3 separate regions of the Homo sapiens genome follow, and regions 2 and 3 are each linked to region 1. Evidence: fine-mapped expression QTL. A gene starts in region 1. Each other region holds a variant in brackets. All regions are shown on one strand. Distances are between the middles of the regions.

What was found. PIP is the estimated chance that this variant, and not a neighbour inherited with it, causes the effect.
Region 2: its variant is the best candidate, but not a certain one, in a credible set for the expression of KRT10-AS1 in whole blood (TOPMed, PIP 0.54).
Region 3: its variant is the best candidate, but not a certain one, in a credible set for the expression of KRT10-AS1 in monocytes after interferon gamma (Fairfax 2014, PIP 0.60).

The regions. Positions count from the first base shown.
Region 1 is chr17:40,817,671-40,820,239 of GRCh38, forward strand. It overlaps KRT10-AS1 (KRT10 antisense RNA 1), which reads left to right and starts at 1,475. Exons shown (of 3, transcript NR_160888.1): 1 at 1,475-1,538. It overlaps KRT10 (keratin 10), which reads right to left. Exons shown (of 8, transcript NM_000421.5): 5 at 2,379-2,504; 6 at 1,847-2,064; 7 at 1,117-1,491; 8 at 447-812. The coding sequence ends at 806. RefSeq lists an enhancer at 1,985-2,569.
Region 2 is chr17:40,849,805-40,852,658 of GRCh38, forward strand. LOC105371777 (a long non-coding RNA gene) reads left to right here and starts at 994. Exons shown (of 3, transcript XR_934754.3): 1 at 994-1,056. The variant C/CT (reference allele first, on the strand shown) is at 1,495.
Region 3 is chr17:40,869,208-40,872,061 of GRCh38, forward strand. The region is part of intron 1 of LOC105371777 (a long non-coding RNA gene); the gene reads left to right. Among named protein-coding and RNA genes, the nearest start is that of KRT12, 3.4 kb to the left of the region's middle. The variant C/T (reference allele first, on the strand shown) is at 1,126.

The sequences.
Region 1 (2,569 bases):
TGATTTTACTTGGGTGGTGTCAGAAGATATGTCAAGCTATATAACAATTGGGAAGAAGTAATATAGTAACTGGAAGAAAGTAAGAAAAGGCAAAGGTGAGAAGTCAGGTAATTAGAAAATATAAAATTTCCAATTATTATTATTTTGGGGGTTTTATTTGAGATATTCCAGAATTTCCAGGATTGAAATAATTTAAAGCCAGAGAGCTGGGAGCCTTCCACATATTGTGTATCTTAAAGAGTAATATTGGGGATTTACAGACTTTACTCAGTGAATTTACTGACGGTGGTCTGAACATACATGATTAAAAAACTTAGAAAAGGCATGACAATAGTTCTGTCTTCCGAATTTCTGGATACATCAACCTTCAACTGCTATGGGTTACTAATCTTTAATTTTAAAGAGTATTATGTACTTAAGTAAAGATAAATTCTGACAAATTGGGATAGTTTGCATCAGTAAGAAAGTTTATTGAAATTCATTAGTAAATGAGAACAGAAAGTTGTTTTTCTTTCCATTAAAGAACACTTTCTGGTAAAGTGAAAAGAAGAAATACAGAAACCACAAAACACCTTGTAGACACCTTATTTTCAAGGTCTATTTCCATAGACCATCAAGACAGAAGTGTTTTCTTGGAGACTTTGTTTTCCATGCATCTGTAAATAATGGTCTGTGTGAAGGGAGACTCTTTCCTCTTGATGCAGTTTAATAGTAGTGTTTCTTGGTTTCTGATTCAACCATAGATGAAAGAACTCTACCGTCGGGCGCCACCTCTTCAATAATTGTCTTGATTACTCTGGTTTTGTTAGTATCTGTGTGAATGATGGAAAAAAAATTTTAAACAGTCTGTAGGGATCCTTAGTAATTAACAAGCAAATATTGTAAAAAGAAGGAAATTTCAACTTTACATTGTTAAGCCCAAAAAAATGCTTAAGGTATGACATTTTGATCATGCCATTTTTCACGGCTGGTGTTAAGAGTAGTTTGTGAACAAATGCAAACGGAACCGTCTCTAAGATTTTTAATTTTTTAAAACAACTCTAGAGCTTAAAGCGCAAAAAAACCATCACAGGAAGTTAAAACTAATTCTGATTACCCCAGCTAGTTTCTGCTGACCTTGGTCCCTTAGATGAAGACTCGCCCACGGACCCGGAAGAGGAGGACTTGTGGCCTCCGCTGGAGCTGCCGCCGCCGTATCCGCCGCCGGAGCTGCTGCCGCCGCCGGAGCTGCCGCCCCCGTAGCCGCCGCCGCCGCCGCCGGAACTGCCACCACCGTAGCCGCCGCTGGAACTGCCGCCGTGGCCGCCGCTGGAGCTTCCGCCCCCGTAGCCGCCGCCGGAGCTTCCGCCGCCGGAGCTTCCGCCTCCGTAGCCGCCGCCGGAACTGCCGCCGTGGCCGCCGCCGTGGCCGCCGCCGGAGCTTCCGCCGCCGGAGCTTCCGCCGCCGTAGCCGCCGCCGAAACTTCCGCCGCCGCGTCCGCCGCCTCCGGAACTAAACGGGGTGAGGTCACATTCGGTTATCTCTAACGTTGGAAAACGGTGGGTAGCTTTCCAGTTGCCGTTAATTTAGAAAATAAGCAAAACGTGTTGAAAAAATAAAACCCTGCCAGGTATATATTTTAAAACCCATCCTTTGAAAACAATGTTAAGTTCACAGAACTCTTAAGAATCATTTTGGGCCAAATTCATGAGAAAGTGAGATTGCGGTTGCGTACTCCTTTTTCTGTACTCTACCCTCTCTCCTCCCTTCCTCTCATTCTCTGGCATCTTCTTGGGGTTTAGATAAGCCTTGCTATCTGGAATATTGAATAAAAGAAACTGGGATAACTTTTCATTTTAAAATTTACCTTCCCTCTCCTTCTAGCAGGCTGCGGTAGGTTTGAATTTCATTCTCCAGTCGGATCTTAATATCCAGGAGTTGTTGGTATTCAGTATTCTGGCACTCGGTTTCAGCTCGAATCTGTTGCAACTGTTCTTCCAGAGCGGATATCTGGGCCTGAATCTGTGAGAGCTGCACACAGTAGCGACCTTCTGTTTCTGCCAAGGAGGCTTCCAGGGATTGTTTCTGAAACGGATTTTTTTGTGGCTTAGTGACTTCCTTGTTCAGTTGAGTATGGTGACGCTTATTTGATTATTTAGTAAGGCATTATATAGAAGAATAAGAAAATGAACAGAATTTGTTGTATGTTTAATGGCACCATTTCAGTTTCAGCACTTTTAGATCAACACTAGTAGTACTTTTCCTCCATTAACATGAGCTTCACTTTGTTTTCTCTTTCTTACCTCCAACTCTGCATTTTTTTGTTGCATTGCATATTCTTAGGTGAGCATGAAACTTTGTATGATAAAGTTGAAGTCATTTCATGAGAGTTAACATACCAAGGCCAGTTGGGACTGTAGTTCTATCTCCAGAGCTTGTACATTACGTCTCAATTCAGTAATCTCAGATTTATAGCTGGATATCTGTTCAATGTTATTATCAATTTCTGTAGTCAGTTCCTTGCTCTAGAGTATTAAAAACAAGGAAAAGGGTGAGGAAATTCTGAAATGATAAAACCTCCATGAGTTTC
Region 2 (2,854 bases), 32 kb after region 1:
AATTTTATGTACTCCTCAAGGCTCTGCTCAGATGCCTTTCTGCTGTAAAGAGTGGTCCTCATATCCCAGCCCTTTATATTACCTCCCTTTTCCAAACTTCTGTGGCAGGTCACTTTATACCTGGCGAGGCAAGGTTATTTGCATACCTGACTAGTCCGCTCCCATTTGCTTCCATAGTGACCAGTAAATATTAGTTTGATTGAGAGAAAAGTGTATTTTACTTATTTTTAATTTTTATTCCTAACTGCTAGACCACCAAAGAGAGAGAGCACAATGTTTTTTAGATAGAACACCTCGTTATTAAGGGAGAACAAGTTCTATTTTGATCTAGATTGGCAGGAGTATTACATTTTCAGACTGAATATTTTCATGGAAAGCCAGTGTTCCATCAGCCATTTTAAGATAACTCAGTTTTGTATCTATGGTTAGGCGATTGCCTACATACAAAGCACACTTTAATGACGAATTAGAGGATTCCAAGCTTGCCTTTATAAGTGAATATCTACAGATTTTTTTTTCTTATAAATACTACATGGAAACCAAGTTACTCTATGTTTTGAAAGCAACTTCTAGTACTCTTTAGATGTATGGGAAAAAGTCCTCAGGTTAATTTCCTTAAGAAAAAGCGTCATGAATTAAAAGACTGCTTGTTGAAACTGAAGATCACTTTCTACTGAGTCACCAGATATTGAGCAATATGATTTATATCAATATGCCTTGTGAAATTGTCAAGTTAAAGATTGTACATATTAGATAAGAAAATTTTGTGTCCCTATAGAGTGACAAGTATCTTGAGGGTTTTCTGGAAATATTGAATTCAACAAATATCTCAGTAAAATGCAAACAACTTCTTGATGGATTTTTTAGTCTCAAACAGCCAGCCTAATTCCTTTATTAAGATTTAAGGAGAAGGAAGTAAGTGGAATTCAATTTCATATGACGCAAGCATATTTTAAATAGAGTAACCAAAACAAATAGATTCAAATGGAATCTATGCAAACCATCCTCTTTGCTTCCTTTGTGATGGACACTCCTTAGCTTCTGCGCCTTAATAAGGTAGGGTTTGTTCATTCAGTCTTTCCAAAGATAAGTGTTGGAAAATTTAGAGTTAATAAATCAGTGGATAAAAATTCAATGACTATTTCAAGAAAATAATAGAAGAAATATATCGCCACCATTCAATGTTTGTGCAACCAGTGTTTATTGAGTGCTTTTAATGGTACCTAGAGAGTAATACAGGTGGTCAAGCACAGTGGCTTATACCTGTAATCCAAGAACTTTGGGAGGCTGAGGTGGACAGATTGCTTGAGCCCAGGAGAGTAATACAGGCATTATTCCAGCTTTTACTGAGTGAATATTCTAGCATTTGTACGTAATTCTGTGCACAGGTATTCAACAAGTATTGATTGTCTCCTATGCAGTAGGGTATATGTGCTGTTTTATGCACTGTGCTAGATGCCAGGGCTACAGTGGAGGGCAAAACAGACATGGCCG[C/CT]TGCCCTTAGAGAGAATGCAGTGGTAGAGCCAGACATTATTTCAATATTCATACAAATAAATGTATAATTGCAAATTGCGCTAAGAGCTGTGAAGGATAACTACAGTATAGTATGAGAAGGTAGAATAGGAGAACCTGACTTGGTTAATGAGGGGCATTTGAGTTAGGACCTAACTGGTGACTAGGATTGTTAACTAGGCCAAAATGGGGGTGGAGGCTCATTCTAGGTAAAGAGGGAAAGTTTGTGAGAAGCTGCCAGAGTGGGAAGGAGCATGGCGTTAGAATTTACTTGACTGTAGTATTGCTGTCACTCAGTATATGTATATCAAAACCTCATATGCTGTATATCTTAAATATATACAAAAATAAAGTAAACAAGACCAGTAGGTTTGGAGAAGATAGAGGGGGAGAGAGGGCACACGATTTGAAAGAGGGTAGAGGGGGCCAGGCCAGGCCATACCTTGCTGGGTTTTGGTCTTTATTCCAAGGACAATAGGAAGCCTTTGAAGGCCTTTAAGCAATGGAGTGACTGGATCAGCTTTTTCAAAATGATCCCCCCAGCTCTGGTGGAAAGAGTGGAAGAGAGGTGGGTACAGGTGGAAGCTGTGTGGTCAGCCAGGAGAGAGACATAAATAGTGGCTTGGATGAGGAGGCAAAATACCAGATATGGCCAGGATATGTATAGGTATCTGTTGAATGAATGAATAAATAAATCTAGGGTCAGGAGACTTGGAGCTTGACCTAGTTAAAAAGCTACAATTGAAAGATTTTTAGATCAACATTGATAGAGGAATAATTTTTCTTTGATTGTTTAGTTAAAGTTCAATTTAACTGAAAGGTAAAAGCCAGTTAAAATAATGCTTTATTATTTGATTTTTTTTTCTGACAAAATGAAACATAATTTAAATGATCCATAGTGATCCTAAATAGATTTTTAGTTCAGAGATAAATTATCATAAGGACATAAGATGTTTGGATATATGTGTATAGCAAGTGTTTTATGATACATATTCTACATGTTGGGAATGTAGTTTTATATGATTAAGTTTTCAGAGTGCCAATGCTTTGGAAAGTGCAGCTAAAAAGTCTCCCTGTGGACAAATTGGCAAATAATTGTGTAACCTGCTACTTCAGCTTTGTGTCTTTGGTGTTATAATATTATATTGTCCTTTAGCTCCTCAGAAATGATCTCCTCTTTAATGCAACTGTTACCTGTGTACCCTGGAGGTGACAGATAATCATGATAATGATGACTAAAACTTTCATCAGGTTCTCCTCCCTACTGAGACCTTCCTTTCCCTTGAGCAGTTCTTGTCTTCCCACTGGCCAGCGTTCAGTTCTATCTCCTTCAGCTCTGCAA
Region 3 (2,854 bases), 52 kb after region 1:
ATTCTTATTTGATTTAATAATACATACCTTTCATAAAAAGGAAGATTTTTATTTTTATTTATTTACCACTACTGGATTTTTTTTAAAAAATTTCAACTTTAATTTTAGATTCAGGAGGTACATGTGCAGGTTTGTTACGTGTGTATATTTCATGATGCTGAGGTTTGGGGTACGACTCATCTCATCACCCAGGTAGTAAGCATAGTACCCAATAGTTGTTTAACCTTTGCTCCCCACAGTAATTCCCAGTGTCTATTGTTGGCATTCTATATGTCCATGAGTGCCCAATGTTTAATTCCCAAAAAGGAGGCTTTCTATACATTTTAAAGTGGAGATTGAATCTATCTGGTAAAGATTAATTTCTCAGCAAAATTATTGGATACCTGTGAGATCATTGAGATGTTACTTACTTAATACAAACAATCAACCATAAAAATTAGCAAATATGTGGCTATTGTTTAAGGTTTTTCCATAAGCATATGCAATACTTTTTGTTTCTCTTACTAAAACAATAACCTGATTTTTTTGGACACTTCAATAGCAGAGATAATATGTGAAGTAAGCCTGTAACTGTTACACAACTTGAATTATGTCAAAATGATGTGGTCTTTTTGAAAATTAAATCAAGAATTTCAACCAAGCCAACATGAAAGTATTCAAGTACTAGGTCTGCTGTTACCTCCATTCTTCAATGTCTAGTCCATTTGCCCAGTGTCTTGGACAAAGTCAGCATTCAATATATGCTTATTGATTTCTCTCTTGATAAATCAAGCTGCTGGGCCATTAATGTGTGTTATGTATGAGGAAATTTTTCCAAAATCAAAAAAGAGTGTATCAATATAAAGGCAAGCTACAAAGTATAATAATTTAAGTATTCGTGGATTCACAATGTAGACACATTCAGATGTTACTCTCATTCTAATGTACACATGCATGCACACACACACACCCAGAAACATGCACTCAGATGTCTTTGCTTGGTGCCAGTGTGCAGGTGCTCCCTGCAGAGGGATCTTCTGCAGCCCCTGCTGCTCCACCTTCCCTGGGAGCCCTTTCTCCTGAGAATGCTTCTTTCGCTGGCCTTTATCTCATTGGAGTTAGTCTCAATGGTTAGCACTTGTTTTG[C/T]CTTGTAGAGTACAGACTGACTCCTGAGGAATTCCAGACCTGTAGCCTAGATTCCCCGTAGTTTACTGCTGCCTCCTGTCCACCTGCATATCCAGATATTATCTCCCTGATTACAGCCTCCCCGAAGCTGAGGTTCTTCCATTGTGAAGAGTCCTGAGCCAGAACTAGCAGTGCCCACTGGGGATTAGGGGACAGATGCCGAGGGGTCACACCTGAAGCCCATGGCAAACCTCCATAAGGAATACCTGGGATCAATTCTGGCAAATGGAAGGACTGTTTTGACTTTTTATTAAAAAAAAAAAAAAAAGCCACTTTCCCAGGGACACAAATGATGAACCCGTGGTGAAATCCAATTACAACTTCCTTTTATATTATTACATAAGGGACAAATGTGAAGGGACATATTTCTCCCCAACCTAAACTCGTCACAAAGAGCAAGCAAGTGGGATTTCTAAATAAAGGGGGTTTAAGCAAGAGATTTGCAGAAATCACACATTTGCTATAGATGTGGAAAGAATGTAGCAACCTAAGGCAGTCTCAGCTTGAGAGAAGCCATGATCCATTTGTTTAATTTCTTGAGAGAATGAAAATCTGGTCAGTGGAAATGCCAGTGATTTTAGCCCCATATGGAGGTTTTTACCAAGGATTCCTTAAATCTATATTATAAGCATTTTGACTGAGCTGGTCTTGTTTGAATTATCAGTTATTATGTACTTACTACTTTTTGGACACTGGGCCAGCTGAATTACAGACATTATTTTTTAACCTTCACGGCAAGCTCTTAAAGTGGTACTGGTTTTATTTGTTTGTTTGTTTGAAACAAGGTCTTGCTTGGTTGCCCTCACTCCGGCTGGAGTGCAGTGGTGTGATCATAGCTCTCTGAAACCTTGAACTCCTGAGCTTAAGCAATCCTCCTGCCTCAGCCTCCCAAGTAGCTAGGACTACAGGTGGGCACCACAACACTGGCTATTTTTTTTTTTTTAATTTTTTTGTAGAGATGGAGTCTTGTTATATCGCGTAAGCTGGTCTTGAACTTTAGGCCTCAAGTGATCCTTCTGCCTTGGCCTCCCAAAGCACTGGGATTACGGGCATGAGCCACCTCAAGGCGCCCAGCTTCAGGTGGTACTTTTATCCTATTTTACAGATGAGCAATCTGAGAGTCCAGATGTTAAGTGATTTATTTACGCCCATGCAGCTGGGAGGAGGCAGAGATAGGATTCGGGCCTGCAGTGCCTTCTATAGATACCACAACCTTGCTGCTGGCGGTGACAATAAAAAGGGCAGAGGATACTCTGACATCCCCTAGCTATGACACCTGACACTAGGCTTCTGCCCTGCACATCTAACAGGAGGTGCTCTTTTTTTTTTCTTTTCTTTTAAGCTTTCTCCTTGAATTTCTCAGTGTATGGGCTGAGACCTAGAGAATGACTTTTCATGGCTTATAAGCAACAACATGACACATGAAATTCTGTAAACACACAGGCAAATGCGGTTTTCATTTTAGCTTTGACCTGTAACTACATCTCCAGAGATCTTATAAAGCACAAGTTAAACTTGCACTCCCCACACAAGAACTTGATGTTATGGTTGTTAACTATTATTCACTCCCAAGTGTCCCCCAAGACAGAGAGATTCCATTTTACTGCCATAGAAATGAAAACAGAAGCAAATAAAATGTCAAAAGAAATGTGCCAAGTTCAAAATTGTACCTCAGTGATTTGATCACATA